Linked DNA regions of Homo sapiens: region 2 is linked to region 1. A link means that fine-mapping ties the variant in region 1 to the expression of a gene that starts in the linked region. Tissue or cell type: nucleus accumbens. Region 1 holds a variant in brackets; the other region holds the start of a gene. All regions are shown on one strand. Distances are between the middles of the regions.

Evidence for each region. PIP is the estimated chance that this variant, and not a neighbour inherited with it, causes the effect.
Region 2: it holds the start of ZNF117, and the variant in region 1 is fine-mapped to the expression of ZNF117 in nucleus accumbens (GTEx, PIP above 0.99). The same link has a PIP of 0.9 or more in ileum.

The regions. Positions count from the first base shown.
Region 1 is chr7:65,213,849-65,216,533 of GRCh38, reverse strand. It overlaps the pseudogene INTS4P1. Among named protein-coding and RNA genes, the nearest start is that of SNORA15B-1, 140 kb to the right of the region's middle. The variant C/T (reference allele first, on the strand shown) is at 1,535.
Region 2 is chr7:64,989,768-64,992,452 of GRCh38, reverse strand. It overlaps ZNF117 (zinc finger protein 117), which reads left to right and starts at 1,417. Exons shown (of 4, transcript NM_015852.5): 1 at 1,417-2,506. All of the region lies in intron 1 of ERV3-1-ZNF117 (ERV3-1-ZNF117 readthrough), which reads left to right. ERV3-1 (endogenous retrovirus group 3 member 1, envelope) reads left to right here. Exons shown (of 2, transcript NM_001007253.4): 2 at 1-2,097. The coding sequence ends at 1,241.

The sequences.
Region 1 (2,685 bases):
CCTGAAAGCAACCGTAACCACGACAACAAGGCCAGGTGCAGAACCCAGGTCTCCCCCCCTTTATTAGAGCCTGTGGAGAGATCATGAATGTATTCTCCAATATGTTCATTTTCAGGGGTTAAAAAAAAATCTCCCCAGTGTCACTTCTCCCAGGAACGTGTGTATGTGAATGGCTTAAAAACTGTTGCCCTTGACAAAGAAATGTACCAATCTCCAATGACAGAATATTTAATCGAGGAAAGTTCTCATTAACAGATGTTAATTAATCTCCTTAACAGATGTTAAGGAGAACTACAAACCACTGCTCAGTGAAATAAAAGAGAATACAAACAAATGGAACAACATTCCATGCTCATGGGTTGGAAGAATCAATATCGTGAAAATGGCCATACTGCCCAAAGTAATTTATAGATTCAATGCCATCCCCATCAAGCTACCAATGACTTTCTTCACAGAATTGGAAAAAACTACTTTAAAGTTCATATGGAACAAAAAAGAGCCCGCATCGCCAAGTCAATCCTAAGCCAAAAGAACAAAGCCAGAGGCATCATGCTACCTGACTTCAAACTATACTACAAGGCTACAATAACCAAAACAGCATGGTACTGGTACCAAAACAGAGATATAGATCAATGGAACAGAACAGAGTCCTCAGAAATAACACCACATATCTACAACCATCTGATCTTTGACAAACCTGACAAAAACAAGCAGTGGGGAAAGGATTCCCTATTTAATAAATGGTGCTGGGAAAACTGGCTAGTCATATGTAGAAAGCTGAAACTGGATCCCTTCCTTACGCCTTATACAAAAATTAATTCAAGATGGATTAAAGACTTACATGTTAGAACTAAAACCATAAAAACCCTAGAAGAAAACCTAGGCAATACCATTCAGGACATAGGCATGGGCAAGGACTTCATGTCTAAAACACCAAAAGCAATGGCAACAAAAGCCAAAATTGACAAACGGGATCTAATTAAACTAAAGAGCTTCTGCACAGCAAAAGAAACTACCATCAGACTGAACAGGCAACCTACAAAATGGGAGAAAATTTTCGCAACCTACTCACCTGACACAGGACAAATATCCAGAATCTACAATGAACTCAAATAAATTTACAAGAAAAAAACAAACAACCCCATCAAAAAGTGGGCGGAGGATATGAACAGACACTTCTCAAAAGAAGACATTTATGCAGCCAAAAAACACATGAAAAAATGCTCATCATCACTGGCCATCAGAGAAATGCAAATCAAAACCACAATGAGATACCATCTCACACCAGTTAGAATGGCGATCATTAAAAAGTCAGGAAACAACAGGTGCTGGAGAGGATGTGGAGAAATAGGAACACTTTTACACTGTTGTTGGGACTCTAAACTAGTTCAACCATTGTGGATGTCAGTGTGGCGATTCCTCAGGGATCTAGAACTAGAAATACCATTTGACCCAGCCATCCCATTACTGGGTATATACCCAAAGGACTATAAATCATGCTGCTATAAAGACACATGCACACGTATGTTTATTG[C/T]GGCACCATTCACAATAGCAAAGACTTGGGACCAACCCAAATGCCCAACAACGATAGACTGGATTAAGAAAATGTGGCACTTATACACCATGGAATACTATGCAGCCATAAAACATGATGAAACTGGAAACTATCATTCTCAGCAAACTATCACAAGGACAAAAAACCAAACACCGCATGTTCTCACTCATAGGTGGGAATTGAACAATGAGAACACATGGACACTGGAAGGGGAACATCACACCCCGGGGACTGTTGTGGGGTGGGGGGAGGGGGGAGGGATAGCATTTGGAGATATACCCAATGCTAAGTGACGAGTTAATGGGTGCAGCACACCAACATGGCACATGTATACATATGTAACAAACCTGCACATTGTACACATGTACCCTAAAACTTAAAGTATAATAATAATAAAATAAAATAAAATAAAATAAAATAAAATAAAATAAAATAAATAGTTAATGAATGGAGTTCTGCAGGCTTTGCTTTAAAGAACAGATCTACAGTATTTTAATGGGGAATGTAATCTCAGTGTCATCTCTGAGGCATGTTTACTGCTATATCTCTATCGAGCACCTGAAGTAGTGCCTGGAACAGAGGAATGACTCAGGGTGTGGTGACTGGACTGGATGGCACTTTCAAAGCACTGGACCTGTCCCACGATGGGGCAGTGAGTTTCCTGTCCCTCTACCTATAAGGTATCTAAAAGGTTTAGCCTTGCGTGTGGTAGATGTGCTTTGAAGGGGGTTTAGGAGACAGTCTAGGAGATGACCCTTAAGTAACCTGCCCACAATCTCCTTTACACTCAGGTGATCAGTGAAGTTTTTTTTCAGGGACAAGGTAAAACAGTAGTTCTGCTGGTATCACTGACTACGTATTAGAATCACCTATGAACTCTTAAACACTAGTGTCCATAGGCCCTATTCTCAGGATTTTGATTTAATTAATGTAGGCTGACACCTATTCATCTGTTCTTAATGCTTTCTGAGTAATCCTAAAGTGCAGTGAAGGTGGACAACCACTAATGTGGAAAAAAACAAAACAAAACAAAAACACTCCAATATGCAATACAACTTCACAGCTAGCTCAGAACTAGTTCTCTGCAGGTCTCATAATTTATAATAATTTCTGCTTGGAAGCCAGAAGGC
Region 2 (2,685 bases), 220 kb after region 1:
GTAAAACAAGCACTTGCAATTCTGTAAATCTTACCATCTTAGAGCCAGATCAGCCCATATGGACAACAGGTTTAAAAGCACCGCTAGGGGCACGAGTCAGCGGTGAAGAAATTGGCCCAGGAGCCTATGTCTATCTATATATCATAAAGAAAACTCGGACCCGCTCAACCCAACAGTTCCGAGTTTTTGAGTCATTCTATGAGCATGTTAACCAGAAATTGCCTGAGCCCCCTCCCTTGGCCAGTAATTTATTCGCCCAACTGGCTGAAAACATAGCCAGCAGCCTGCACGTTGCTTCATGTTATGTCTGTGGGGGAATGAACATGGGAGACCAATGGCCATGGGAAGCAAGGGAACTAATGCCCCAAGATAATTTCACACTAACCGCCTCTTCCCTCGAACCTGCACCATCAAGTCAGAGCATCTGGTTCTTAAAAACCTCCATTATTGGAAAATTCTGTATTGCTCGCTGGGGAAAGGCCTTTACAGACCCAGTAGGAGAGTTAACTTGCCTAGGACAACAATATTACAACGAGACACTAGGAAAGACTTTATGGAGGGGCAAAAGCAATAATTCTGAATCACCACACCCAAGCCCATTCTCTCGTTTCCCATCTTTAAACCATTCTTGGTACCAACTTGAAGCTCCAAATACCTGGCAGGCACCCTCTGGCCTCTACTGGATCTGTGGGCCACAAGCATATCGACAACTGCCAGCTAAATGGTCAGGGGCCTGTGTACTGGGGACAATTAGGCCGTCCTTCTTCCTAATGCCCCTAAAACAGGGAGAAGCCTTAGGATACCCCATCTATGATGAAACTAAAAGGAAAAGCAAAAGAGGCATAACTATAGGAGATTGGAAGGACAATGAATGGCCTCCTGAAAGAATAATTCAATATTATGGCCCAGCCACCTGGGCAGAAGATGGAATGTGGGGATACCGCACCCCAGTTTACATGCTTAACCGCATTATAAGATTGCAGGCAGTACTAGAAATCATTACCAATGAAACTGCAGGGGCCTTGAATCTGCTTGCCCAGCAAGCCACAAAAATGAGAAATGTCATTTATCAAAATAGACTGGCCTTAGACTACCTCCTAGCCCAGGAAGAGGGAGTATGCGGAAAGTTCAACCTTACTAACTGCTGCCTGGAACTTGATGACGAAGGAAAGGTCATCAAAGAAATAACTGCTAAAATCCAAAAGTTAGCTCACATCCCAGTTCAGACTTGGAAAGGATAGTCTCCAGATTCCCTTTTCAGAGGTTGGTTCTCATCCCTTGGAGGATTTAAAACCTTAGTACAAATAGTCCTAGCCATATTGGGAGTTTGCCTTATACTCCCTTGTCTCTTACCCCTCATTGTCAAAAATATCCAAACAGCCATAGAGGCTCTTGTGGACAGACGGACTACCACACGACTAATGGCCCTAACTAAGTATTAACCCCTGCCAAGAAAAGAGCTACTTCCTCTTGAAGTAAATGAAGATAGTGATGCTTTCTCTTAAACTTTACTTATAAAAAGCATCAAAGGGGGGAATGAAGCAGGAAATATAAAAGGAAAAACAAGTAAAGGGAAAACAAGTCCTTTCCTGACCAGTCTGACTCACTCCAAAGTCCTGCTGGAGCTATGATAATTATCTGCAAGGCCAGGCAGGGGCTCCGAAGGAGTGGGCTCCAGGAGCAGGGATGAGAAAAACAAGTTCTCCTTATCAGTTTCCCTGTTTGAAATTCTCTCCCCATAACATTATTCTTTGTTCTGCTCTCACAACTATTTTTGTAACTATTTCTGCAAGTCTGTAAAGATTTTGTAAGTTCTTGTTTTTCTTTCTGTAGCATGGCAAGGTCACAAGACATGTTTAAGTAAGGTAGGCTCATGTTGCAAATCCTGTTGTAAAACCTGTCACGGTATGATTAACTGCCTTTGTTCTGCTTCTGTAAGACTGCTTTCTCACCTCGCAGGTTTTGCGCCAAAAACCCGACTTGCCCCTGCCTGATGCATGTATAAAAGTCAAGCCCTGTCTTTGTTCAGGGCTCAGCCTTTGGATGTTAATCCGCTGGGCCAGTGGCCACCTAAATAAAACCTTCCTGTTGCACCCAGTGATCTCTCCGGCCTCCTGATTCCCACAACATATAAGCATTCCTTTTTCTCTGCAACCTAGCCCGCATCTGTCATTGACTTTTTAACAATAGGCATTCTGACTGGATGAGATGGTATCTCACTGTGGTTTTTCTCTGCATTTTTCTAATAATTAACAACGTGAATTTTGTTTTCATATGCTTGTCAGCCACATGTATGTCTTCTTTTGAAAAGTATCTGTTCATGTTTTTGCTTACTTTTTAATTAGGTTTTTGGTTTTCTTTTTGTTGTTGTTGTTGTTTTCTGAGATGGAGTCTTGCTGTGTCACCAGGATGGAGTGCAGTGGCATGATCTCGACTCACTGCAACCTCCACCTCCCAGGTTCAGATGATTCTTCTGCTTCAGTCTCCTGAGTAGCTGGGATCACAGGTGCGTGACACAAAACCCAGCTAATTTTTGTATTTTTATTAGAGATGGGGTTTCACCATGTTGGCCAGGATGGTCTGGATCTCTTGACCTCATGATCCATCTGCCTCAGCTTCCCAAAGTGCTGGGATTACAAGCATGAGCCACAGATCCTGGCTTATTCTTCTTCTTCTTTTTTTTTA